Regions from separate parts of the Homo sapiens genome. Here regions 1 and 2 are each linked to region 3. Evidence: fine-mapped expression QTL. A gene starts in region 3. Each other region holds a variant in brackets. All regions are shown on one strand. Distances are from middle to middle.

Region 1 (4,204 bases), 150 kb before region 3:
AAGATTATGTGCCATTTTCTACTATGATACTGGAACTCAGGAGGAAGTCATTAATGTTTTTTGAATGATAAGGAAACTGAGTGGTTATAAACTTTTGCAAGACACCTAGCTTCTCAGTTAGGGTTTGGCATGTAGTTGGTGTTAATAAATGCTTATAGAATTAATTAATTTTTATTCCATTCACCTCAAATGTTATCTCCTGGCCTTCCAAAATATGACACCTAATCTAATACCTCTTCAGTACCTGTATTGATTGGATCTTCTCTCTTCCCTCACAAGTGTCTTTGGTTTTTCACAGCAGCCCATCTCCTTTTCCACTGCCTTTTCTTCCCCTCCATTCTTCATACTATCCTCCAGTCACACTGCCCCGATTCCCCTGATTTCCTCACCCCTTTCAGTCCCCACTCAGTAGTGATAACCAAATAGCTTACACACTGTCTCTCAGTTTTATCATTTCATTGTATCTCATTTTACATTGTGGGTTTTTTGAGAGGTTGTTTTATTTTTTAATGTTAAATAAAAATGAGTTTCTTATGAATTACATTGGTGAAACTTTTTCAGTTTGAGGCTTCATAGTGTTTTTGTCCTTAATTTCAAACGATTAGTATAGAAAAAGTTCTCTATGCATTGCGAAGCCCTCCTTGGTTCCGCACCCTCAGCGTCCCTCCTATTCTTGTGTTGAGGGTCACTCAATAATCGGCCCCGTCCTACTTAGCATACACAGTCCTGTTCCAATCTGGGACCAGTTTTTATATTCAGCAGGGTTTTATAGAACTCCAGCACAGTGCTGCTAGACTTTACTTGATTAACGCCTAGGTGAAAAGTTTTATTTACTTAGTGATATCGACGTTTATTAATGTCAGTAGTAATCATATGAACTTTAAATAACTGTGAAGTGTTCAGTCATTTTGAATGTGTGTATAGCAGCTATTCATACATTTTGGACTACTTGAAAATCTCAACATATAGAGCACTATAAATACTCAAAAAGCCCCCCCCCCCCCAAAAAAAAAACACAACATGCCAAATTAAGCTGAGAGCAGCAAAGCTGTATTCTTAGGAATATGGAACAGACATGAAAACTTGTCAGAATTGAAATAGAATAATAAAGTTTTCTTAAAGAGTAAATATTAGCTGAGTTGAATAATCTGCTTAGAGGAAAAACCCTGTCCTAAGTCAAAAATATAGGAAAACATTGTTCAAGTGCCTGTGTGGAAAAATATTTAGGCTAATTTGTACACTTTAAAAAATATTGTTTGTCTGAAACAGATGCCTTCTGAGTTATAGAGGATTTAATTTTTAGAGCTATGCATTGGATATATTGTCCAATAGAGAGAATAACAGTATCAGTGTCATTGAGTCACTTCTACCAAATAATTTAATGTATATATTAATAAAGTACTTAGGACAGCATCTGACACAGAGTAAGTGCTACATTAGAGTTAGGTGCCCCTGTTAGCTTATTTTTATATCATTTAACTCTAATAGTATATGAACAAATTCAGATATAGATTATTAGGAATTATTGCACCTAGGATAGCGCAGTACATTCAAACATTCAGTAAATATTGTTGACTGATTAAGTTAATTTGTAAGTACAAGCCATCCACTTTTTTTAAGAACCAGAGATCTCAACACCTTTAATTACAGGATTTAAGGGAGGTGCCCCAAAGAGCCTTTGAAATTCTTGATGAGACTACCAGTTTTTTGACCTTTCCTCCCCTCCTAGCACTCCCTTCTACAAATTGGTGAAAACCAGTCACGTGTAGATGACTAAATTTAAGTGATTATCCACTTGGTACCAAGCTCCCCTAAGC[A/G]TCCCCCAAACATATCATGAGGACTATTTTTAGATCCTAAATCCCTTTTAGCCTGTCACCACAGAAAGTCCAGACCATCCGGATTGCAGCTCTGCCTTCTCTATACCAACTCGCAGACTGCACGTTAAACTTCCAATACCTGATTCCTGGTCTTATTCTCAAATAAATAATCTTGCTTTGTGTTCCAGCCTGCTAAAATAAATGAACTGTGTGCCTAAAGCTTACCCATATTCACTTCTGTACTAGATCGTAGTCCCTTTGGTTGTTCAAGAACTTCTGAAATCCCTTTCTCTCTTCACTGCATCATCTGTCTTGCCTCTGTACTGCCCCTAGACTTGCCTCTATAAGTCCTATCAGGATGTACACCTGCTATAATATCTTTCATTAAAACAACCATCCAAAAAACCCTCGTTGTGTGAGTGTAGATTATCAAATCCAGTGGCCAGTTCTCAGTGTTCATTTTACTTGACCCTACAACAACTGTTAACACAATTGATTACTCCCTCCTCTAAATTCTTTTTTCTCCTTTGACTCGTGGATAGTACTGCTCTTTTAATATTCTACCAGCCTCATTTTCCTTTATAGTATCCTCCTTTTTCCTACTGCTAAATGTTCAAATGTCTCAGGGCTCAGTCTTTGAACTCTCTTTTTATACTCACATTTCAGGTGATCGCATCTAGTCCTATGCCCTTAAATACCATCAGTATTTCTCTTTATTCCAGAGTTAATCCCTGTACATTAGACTTTTATATCTAACTTTCTACTCAGTATCTCCACTTCGGTTAAGCATCTGAAAGGTAACATATTAAAAAGAGAATTTCTAGTTTTATTGGTCTCAATCTTCTTTATTCAGTATGCCATTCACTAAGATGCTGAAGACAAAAACCCTTAAAATTATCTTTTATTCCTTTTTTCTTTGCTCCGTATCCAGTCTGATGCCAAATCCTGTTGGCTTTTTATTCAAGATATATTTATGATTTGGCCACTTTTCAACACTTCTGCAACTACTGATTCAATAATATGTTGCCTGAACTACAGCAGTAGACATCTAACTTCTCTCGTTAATATTTTTTGCTTCCTCTAAGGTAGCACCCCTTCACTCCAGACATTACTCTGTCTTCTTACCTGATTCTTTATTATACATTTTTTACTGTCTTTTTACTTGACTGTCAGCTCCATGTGGGTGGGATTTTTCTGTTATGTTTATTGTTGTATCCTCAGTTTCTGTGACAGTGGCTGGCACACTGTAGATAACCAGAAAATATTTGTTGAATGAGTGAAGAGACAGGGACATACGAACTTGTGCTAAGGAGGGCCCAAGCAGGTGTGTTTGTCTGTCTTTTCCCTTAGACTTTCTGTGAAGCGCGCATCACACTTTATTTAGCATTGTAATAGTTCTCTAACTGATGATTCTTACTTGCCCTCTGAGAAGAAATACACACAAGGAAATGAGGTAGGGAGAGAAGAGAATTCAATTTCCTCAAAACTGGGATAACTATATAACTCAGACCAAACTAGGATACTTTAATGAAAAGAGGGAATCATTAATAATTAAAGTGAGACAACAGGCATAAATACAGACTTCCCAAGTAAATAGAGGCATATGGGGTCACTCTGTTATAACCATTTATTTTCTGACTATTCCCACCAGGCAACAGGTCTGAAATTCACACCAAGACATCTCCATCTTGGACCATCCTAGATTGATTGACCTAACCGTGTTATCGGTACATACCACATTCATTTTGTCTCATGTGTAATGATAATTGTGTTTTGATAAAATATTTTTTCTTCATCTCCAAGGAATGGAATTGTTCATATTCATTAGTGTAGTGCTTTTGTACTAAAAAGTAGACTACGTATAGGGTAGGTAGACAATCTTCTTAAACTGCTTTGAAAATACTGACTCTAATTGATAGGTTATTTTCCAGAGAAATTGGTGGAAATAGTCTCCTTTGGTATTGACTCCCCAAACATTCACAGTTTGGATGGAAACGCTGTTGTACTGGCTGTGAGATGCTGACCCTTGGCAGACACATTTGTTTCTTAATTTTCTACTCAAAAGGCTACTAACTTTGCGAAATTAATATGATGACTCAGACTTGGAAATCAATTGTTCCCCCTTTGACACAAAAAATATTGTAGGATCTATTTTATGTTTCTGTTTTTCTGGAAACTTTTACAGTGCACCTACATGTACTGACTCAAAAATTGGTTCTTAAACACTGTTTCAACACATTTTTATCATTTGTACAATAAATAAAAATAAATAAAAAATAATATAAAAAATAAAAATAAAATTTATATCATTTGTTCAATAGGACACTCTAGAAAAGCATAGAGATGAAGATTAAACCAAAAGTAGTTGGTTACAATGGTTATATAAG
Region 2 (4,204 bases), 37 kb after region 3:
AAATCCACGGAGGGACAACTGTGGGCCCTGAGTGACAACGCTGTGTAAAGGAAGGGCTGTGAATTGTGACACACGCACCACTCTGAAGGATGTAGTGAGAGCTGTGCCTGTGTAGGGGCGGGAGGTAGATGGAAAAATCTCTGTACCTTCTGCCCAACTGGCCTGCTCTTTAAACTGCTCGTAAATATAAAGTAAGTCTGTGTTTTTTTAAAAGGCCTCACCCGGCCAATATATAGGCCACAGTCTGATAATGGAGAAACTACCCCCATCGCCTCCCAACCCCCTTTCTTATTATCCACCCCTGACCAAGTGCATGAGAATTGTCACCCCTATGGTCATCTGGCTGTGGGTCTCTCCCCTTCCAACTGTGAGCTTGACTTCTTCGATCCCACCGTCTCAGTTCCTGTGCTGGGGCCTGCAGAGAAGCAGCGGCACTAGGCCAAGCCTTCCTTCCCACCGGGATGCCCTCGGCCTCCCAGCCGCCTTCGGCCCGAGTTTCTTTAGCCCACTTGCCTCCTGGAGGAAAAGCCGAGCCCCCTGCAGAGCTGCAGGCCGTCCTCAGGCCCCCCAGACTCCAGCAGGAAGCCGAGCAGACTGTCATGGGGACGACTAGTCACGACTTTAGATATGGACTCGGGGCAAGAGCCCCTCTCTGCCTCTCACACAGAACTTCCCGAGGAGAAAGCTGTCTCCTCGTGTGTGTGATTCTGCTGCCCTGGCCCCTTGGGGAGGAGCCCTGGATTTCCTGAAAATGAGGATCTGCCATTGCAATGAGGCAGCACAGTACCCCTGCTTGCTGTAGGGATTGTTCTTGAAGACCAACCTGCTGAAATGGACCTAAGACAGCAGCTGGACAAATGGCCAAGACAGAGGTGTCATCGTGCCCGTGCCTCAGTTTTTTGTAATAAGAGACATACTGGAAACAGCCTAAATGCCCAGTATTAGGTTGGGTAAATGAAACACGGTTCATACCTTCATTCCCAGTGGAATGCAATGGATGATGGTCTACAGCTGTTAAATGAAGGGTGCAGCTACATTTACCGATGTGGAAAGAGTTCCACGGCATATTGTTGAGTAAAAAGAGCAGGTTATGAAACAGTATATAATCCCATTATCATAAAATCTCACATACAAACTCACACGCACACTCACACACACAGAGCTGTCTGGAAATCTGTTCACCAAACTGTTAACGGTGACTAGCTCCAGTTGGTGGAATTTAAGGGGTAATTTTTACTTTCTTTAAACTTTATTTTAGTTTCTTTAACTCTTTGTTTTGAATTTTAAAGCCTTTTAAATATCTAATCAATATCATTTTGGAATGAATAAATAAGCAAGCAAATACAAAGTAAAAGAGCTGGGCACAGTGGCTCACGCCTATAATCCCAGCACTTTGGGAGGCCAAGGCAGGTGGATCATCTGAGGTCAGGAGTTCAAGACCAGCCTGGCCAACATGGCAAAACCCTGTCTCTACTAAGAATACAAAAACTAGCCGGGTGCGGTAGCGGGCACCTATAATCCCAGCTACTCAGGAGGCTGAGGCAGGAGAATCGCTTGAACCCGGGAGGCAGAGGTTGCAGTGAGCCGAGATTGCGCCACCGCACTCCAGCCTGGGCGACTTAGCAAGACTCCATCTCAAAAACAACAACAACAACAAAAAGTAAAAGTAAAACTTCCACTGTCCCAAGCACAGTCCCAATGTCACCTCTCAACTCTGAACAACGCAGGTGGCCTCAATGAGGAGGCTGAGGAGGCTGCGGAAGGAGCTGCAGCTTGGGGCTACTCAGTCCTGGATGTGGACGTGGGGGATGTGGCCCTGTGACCAGCTGTGTGGCCTTCAAGCTGTCGCTTAGCCCTTCAGAGCCTCCACGTCTTCCCTGAGTGCCTGCCTGTGGGCTGGCTGGGAGGGGATGCAGGGAGGCACCCACAGCCCAGAGGCTCCTCAGGGCTCCACAGCCCACAAACGTGTGCCTGAGCAACGTCCTCTCCAGCTTCCCCAACTGCTAATGGTCCTGAGTGCACACTCCTGCCAGGCTGGGGCAGACGCAGGAGGAAGAAAGGGAAGTCTAGGAGACAAGGGCATCCTGAGGAAAGTAGACGAAAATCCAGGCCCAGCTGGGTCAGCGACAGGTGCCCTAGCATCAGAACCTGGGAGGGCTCGGGGGAGGAAGGGGAGGGCCTGAGCCCAGGATGAAACAGGCCGCTTCGGGCAGCGTGGGCCCCAGAAGATCTCCTCCAGCCTCCTCCATCCACTACCCTTCGCTTATTCACACTGTTGGCTCCAGGGCGCTCCCATCCCGCCCAAACCCCTCTCCCTAGTTCTCGGGCTTGTGTAGGATGCTAGAGCTGGAAGGGACCGC[G/A]GTGAATCAGCTTGGCCAATCAGCTCGCCTCACCCCCTCACAGTTCAGGAAACCAAAGCGTTTAGGAGACAGGGCTTCCTGCTGATGAGGACGCAGCCATCACAGCTCCGGACTTGAACCCAGGGTCTGGTTCCCGGCTGTGGCGTAACAGGACACAGTGTGCGGGACCAGCCTCCATCAGCACATCCCTCCCACCAGCTCCCCACCCGCTCTCCGCCGGGCGAGTGGGAACAGCTGTGCCACAGCCATGTGCCTGGTCCTGCTTGCCAGCTGGCCGGCAGGGGACGCAGCACCAAGATCCCATTTTAGAGTCTGTTCCTAGGATCCTTCCTGGCACCAACTGTCACAGGTTGGGTTCCCAGGAAAACACTCGAGGACGGAGATTTGTGTGCAGGCTTCTCAGGGAGTGCTCTCACAAACAGTGCCTGCCAGGGGGTAAGAAGCCACGGGACGGGCAGAGAGAGGAGTGAGTGCCATGCAGTAGCCAGGAAGGCCCCGGCTGGTGAACCTTCCGAGTTATCTTGCCTTGAGGCAAGAGGGCCTGGCCTTTCTATCCCTACGGCAGCCCTCATGGACACAGGTTTGGAGATGGGGGCGACCTTGAGCAAGGTGGTTCTCTTCAGCTGAGGGCACCTCCCAGAGAGAAACCCAGCTGGGCCCCACCAAAACCATCAACACTCCCGGAAGCTGCAGGAACCAGAGCCTCTGCCCTGAAGGGGCACTGGCCAGGGCCCCACAGCGGCCACTACAGAGAGGGTGGTGACCTGCCCTGAGATCAGGTCGCCCGTGAATGGTGGCCCTGAATTCACTTCCAGAGCACCAAAGCCCACACCTTAATCCCAGTAAACATATGAATATCTGACACTTAGAGGGTGGGCTTATGTGCACTAGGCCCTGCCTATAAATCTCATTGTTTAACCCTCAAAGCAACATCATGAAGTATCAGTATTCAAGACACAGTTTACAGATGAAGAAACTGAGTCTTGGAGATGATAGGTGATATGTTTGGCTGTGTCCCCACCCAAATCTCATCTTGAATTGTAGTTCCCATAATCCCCACAAGTCATGGGAGGGACCCGGTGGGAGGTGATTGAATCATGAGGGCGGTTCCCCCCGGGCTGCTGTTCTCGTGATGGTGAGTTCTCCTGAGTCTGGTGGTTTTATAAGGAGCTTTCCCCCCTTTTGCTCAGCACTTCTTTCTTCTCCTTCTGCCATGACTGTAAGTTTCCTGAGGCTTCCACAGCTCTGCACAACTGTGAGTCAATTAAACCTATTTTCTTTATAAATTACCCGGTCTCAAGTATGTCTTTATTAGCAACATGAGAACGGGACTAATACAACGGGTAACTTGCCCAAGATCACTCGGCTAATAAGCCAGATTGAAGCCCAGGCAATCCGATACCAGAGCCGCTACATGATCAGGCCACACTGATACACTGGACCTTGCCCGGTAGCTTGTGGATAACATCCATTTCAGGGAGAGAGTGGTGAACTTTGACCTTGGCAGGCTGGTGGTCTGCAGACTGATAGTGGCTCCAAGGAGGCAGAAGCTGCCTGGGATCTTTCCATCCCCGCAGCCTCCCTGCCCTAGTCCCCGTGAGCTCCAGTGCCCAGGGGGGCGCAGCCGGGCCGGAGAAGTCATCCCCCTCAGCCCTGCTCACAGCCCATGTCTGTAGAGCAGCAGGTGCCGATACCAGCCAGGCAGCCTGGGTTTGGCCACACAATCTCTGCAGAGCCCTGGTGCCTTGGTTTACAGAGCTGTAAAACAAGAGATTGTCCCTATTATCATCAAGCTCGTGGCTCCCTCGGGTCTCTCTGAGAGGGGTGCTGGTGAAAAATGATGA
Region 3 (4,204 bases):
AAAGAGCCCAGCAAACCTCTTAGGTTATGGTTGTTCTCACTCCCTATCAGCGTCACGTGGAGTTTTGCCAAAGGAAGGACTTAGTCATCAAACAGATCCTGCCAGTCATCTGGTGGCTCCTGGAGTGTGCCAACTGAGCCTTTCTATCCTCGTGGTCAGGAGAACGAGGCTTGTTAAGGACTCTTCTATTTATTCCATCTTCTTAGGACAAGCCATCAGCCCCTCTAGCAAGGCTGCCTGCTAGTCCATTCGGCACCTTTGTGCAAACTAGGAAGAAGGGATCCATCTGGGGGGATGGAGAAACAGCTTCCACAGCACAAGTCCTCCAGAGCAGACAGGAGACGGAAAGTATGGCACGTCACGGCCATCATGACCTACCTTTTACATGTGGGGAACAAGCCCAGAGAGGGCGACGAACTCGCCCAGGGTCTGTAAGTCGCTGGTTTTTAAAAAGTAGAGCTCGAGTCTCCTGAAGCCCAGCCCATGTTCCTTCCCCTGATCCAGTGTGTGATAAGCAGTAGCTTCATGGCCCCATAGGAGGGAGGCCTTCCTTCCCCAGGGCGCAGAGCAAGCTCAAGGACAGACAAACTCAGAGGGATGTCTTCTCTCTCACTGTTGTACTTACCCATGTCAGAGAGAGACATCATTTCTGAGTCTCAGAGGGGCTGATGACATAAAGGTGAGGCCTAAATGGAGGCAGGTGACTAACAATGTCTTCAGTTCATTCCCCGCATCCCCAACCACATGGGGAGTGCCGCTTTTGCCCGCCTGCGACAGTGGTTCTCAACATTTGCTGTGCCCCGAAATAAAAACAGATTGTGGGCCCCGCCCCCAGAGCTGTCGATCCAGTGGGTCGGAGGTGGGGCCTGAGCACTTGCATTTCCAGCAAGTTCCAGGGTGATGCTCACGTTGCTGGCCTAGGGACCACACTGAGAACCACTGTCCTAGAAATACGGTCAACCCACCCTTTCCTCCCTCACCTTCTTCACTCTCTTCCTCCCCTTCTCCGCCTGTTTCTCCTTTTCCGCTTCCTCCAATTCCTCTCTGGTCCTCTTCTCACCTTCCAATCAGCTGGCTCTGCCACTGACTGGATGCCTGACTCGGGCAAGTCACCTCCCGTCTCTAGGCCCGAGGAGAGGCAGTCGGCTAGGCCGAGATGCCCCTGCCCGGCTCCCCCCTCGCCAGGGCGCTCGGCCTGGGCTCCCCCGTATCCCAGATCCTCTGTGCAGCTGTGGCCGAGATGCCCCTGCCCGGCTCCCCCCTCGCCAGGGCGCTCGGCCTGGGCTCCCCCGTATCCCAGATCCTCTGTGCAGCTGTGGCCGAGATGCCCCTGCCCGGCTCCCCCCTCGCCAGGGCGCTCGGCCTGGGCTCCCCCGTATCCCAGATCCTCTGTGCAGCTGTGGCCGAGATGCCCCTGCCCGGCTCCCCCCTCGCCAGGGCGCTCGGCCTGGGCTCCCCCGTATCCCAGATCCTCTGTGCAGCTGTGCTGGGAGGGAGCTGCTGCGTGAATGAGATCATCCTCCAGCTGCCCTCCAGCCCCGACTCTGGGATTCTGACCTCTCCTTCCTTCCACGTCTGAGCTTTTCTCTCTCCAGTTAGACACGGTATCTGGAGTCTTTCTAGGGCGCGAGGAGGGGAGGATACCCTGGAACGCGGGGTAGGAGGCTGAGGCGAGAGCCCCGAGCAGCGGCGCCCGGGCCCGAGCGGGAGGCCTCCAGCAGGGGGCGCGCCGGGGCCGCCCAGGGGCGGGGTCCGGGGTCGGCGGGAGGTGACCTGCGCCCCAGGGGCGTGGATTCCGCCCGGGAACTCGCGGCCGCACTTAAGGAGCTCGGGCCAGCGCGAGGGGGAGCAGGGAGGAAGCCCGGCTGCTGCGGACCTCCTCGGACCCGGACCCAGCCCCAGCCCGGCCCCAGCCAGCCCCGACGGCGCCATGCGGGGTCCGAGCGGGGCTCTGTGGCTGCTCCTGGCTCTGCGCACCGGTGAGGCCCCGCTGTGAGAGCCAAAGGCGGGCGGGGGTCCCGGGGCGCCGCGGCCCGGCTGAGCAGGTCCCGGGGCTGGAAATGTGCCTGAGCCTGCGGCTCCGGGGCAGTGAGACGGGGGAGGCAGGGGCTCGGGGTCGAGTGAGGACGGCGGAGGGAACTAGCACTGAAGCGCAGACGGGGAAGTCTGGAAGGCTTCTTGGAGGAGGCGGCCTCGAACACCCGAGGCTTCCGACGCTCCAAGGAGAAGCGCGGGCTGAGGCGTGGTGGGGAGGCCTCGGGGTGTGGAGAGGAGCTCCCGGAGGGCGGCCCCTCCCGACGGGCGCAGGAACTCAGGAAGACTTTGGGGGCTCGGAGCAGCTCTTTCTCCCGAGCCCCCGCGGGAGAAGATTCAGAGGGACTGACCGGCAGGCGCGGGAGTCCGCCCGGGGGTTTCTGGCACATGCAGGGATGGAGGTGGAGACGGAGGCCGGGTCCCCTCGCGTCGGCGCCCCGGGGAGTCAGGGCCCGGGATGGTGGGACGGGAGGCGGGACCTCGGGGAGCGGCTCGCGGGGATCGCGGGCGGCGACCGCCGAGGGGATGGAGTTCGTGGCACCGCTGTGGCCGCAGGCGACGCACTCATCAATGCAAACGATGAAGCCACCGCCACCCCCGCCCCGTCTGAACTTTGCAGTTTCCCGCCTGGGTGGTGGGGGGCTTGGAGCGCTGCGGAGGGGAGGGCAGTTCGACTTCCCAGGCCTCCGCCAGGAGTGGGGAGGGGAGGGCTGTGGCGGAAGCTTCAGTCTCGGCCCTTGGGCTGGTGGGGCTGCCACGGGAGGGTGACCTGGTTTCGGGCGGAGTCATGCGTTTCCCTCCCTCCTGCACAGGCCTCTGGCAGTGCTGGCTGGGGCAGGGTGAATGGCAGAGGAGCTCAGGCCTGAAAGTCATCGGCCCCAAGGGGCTCCAGCACCCCTTCCTCTGGGCCCCTAGCCTGGGAGCTCTCGGGGACTCTGACCCGGTCAGATCCTGAGGCATAAGCAGAAGTCCACTGAGGATGTGGGTGTCTCAGGCTCTCTACAAGGGGGTTTACTTTCAACACAGAAGGTGGGGTTTTTATCTGCTCTCTCAGAAGATGAAGCAGGCTCAGAGAGGCTTGAACCTACCCTGATGGGTCCTCAGCCTCCCCTCTGTGCCTGCCGTCTTCCCTTGGCAGGGCCTGGCACTGTGCCCACCGAGGGTGGCTTTGCAGCCAGCATCATCGCAGACACTCCCCGAGGGGACAGGGCTCCTGGAGGGCAGCCCACCCACAGCCCCCTCACCTCACTCTCCCGTCCCAGTTCATGAGGAAGGCCCAGGGACACTGCTGGGTGAGGGAACCTACACGAGCACCCTCTTCGGGAGGCCTGGAGAGGGGAAGAAGCTTCCACTTCCAGGGCCTGCCGAGACTCCCTAGCCAGTGCTCCCACCAGGTGGGGGTAGCTGAGAAGCGACCTGTAGACCCTCCCATTCCTCCATAAAGGGCCGGGTTCTGAGCCATTCCATTTGCCAGCAGCCGTGCTCCTGGTCAGAGAGGCCCTGAGCACAGGAATACCAGCCCTTCCCCTGTCTCTGCGCCTAGTGCCTCCCTGTGGGAGGGCAGGGCTGCCCTAGAGGACTGGCTGTCCAGGCGAATGGGCTCACACAGAACTGCTGGAGCCACCCTCCATGGTGGGCCGGGGCTGGGCAGGGCGGGGGAGCCGGGCCTCACGGTCCCCTGCCCGCAGTGCTCGGTGGCATGGAGGTGCGGTGGTGCGCCACCTCGGACCCAGAGCAGCACAAGTGCGGCAACATGAGCGAGGCCTTCCGGGAAGCGGGCATCCAGCCCTCCCTCCTCTGCGTCCGGGGCACCTCCGCCGACCACTGCGTCCAGCTCATCGCGGTGAGTCCTCTCCCTTCCACCCTGCCAGACAAGAGGGCTGTGACTCAGGAGGGAGCACACAACAGCCCCATTCACCAGGAAAGGAGCCGACCTCGCCCTGCCAGGCCCGGCCGATAGGATCTCCCGAGTCTCCCTGGCCACGAGGCCAGCTTGCCTCCCGCCGGGCCCAGGCCAGGAGGTGGGAGCCTCAGGAGGACCCGCTGCTCAGAGGGCGCCAGCAAAGAAAGGCACCTGAGAGGCTTCCCTTCCACAAGGCCCCTGCCAAGGGGGCCCAGATGGTGGCGGCCCCTCAGTGGCCGCAGGCGGTTACTTGCTCATCTTGCCATG

Alleles and levels. Positions count from the first base shown, and alleles are read on the strand shown. Sizes are in standard deviations (SD) of each study's normalised expression. Not every link is listed here.
For the expression in monocytes after LPS of the gene that starts at base 1,816 in region 3, A is the high allele of the variant in region 1 and G is the other (moderate effect, 0.71 SD a copy in Quach 2016).

The links. PIP is the estimated chance that this variant, and not a neighbour inherited with it, causes the effect. A credible set is the group of variants that fine-mapping cannot tell apart.
Region 1: its variant is the best candidate, but not a certain one, in a credible set for the expression of MELTF in monocytes after LPS (Quach 2016, PIP 0.81).
Region 2: its variant is the best candidate, but not a certain one, in a credible set for the expression of MELTF in whole blood (TOPMed, PIP 0.66).

Annotation. Positions count from the first base shown.
Region 1 is chr3:197,176,868-197,181,071 of GRCh38, reverse strand. The region is part of intron 5 of DLG1 (discs large MAGUK scaffold protein 1); the gene reads left to right. Among named protein-coding and RNA genes, the nearest start is that of MIR4797, 110 kb to the left of the region's middle. The variant A/G (reference allele first, on the strand shown) is at 1,818.
Region 2 is chr3:196,990,557-196,994,760 of GRCh38, reverse strand. It overlaps the pseudogene RPSAP30. Among named protein-coding and RNA genes, the nearest start is that of MELTF-AS1, 10 kb to the left of the region's middle. RefSeq lists a silencer at 3,669-3,963. The variant G/A (reference allele first, on the strand shown) is at 2,361.
Region 3 is chr3:197,027,429-197,031,632 of GRCh38, reverse strand. It overlaps MELTF (melanotransferrin), which reads left to right and starts at 1,816. Exons shown (of 16, transcript NM_005929.6): 1 at 1,816-1,979; 2 at 3,723-3,877. The coding sequence starts at 1,931. RefSeq lists enhancers at 1-95, 1-399, 787-1,423, 1,424-2,060 and silencers at 1,594-2,083, 2,134-2,183, 2,374-2,553.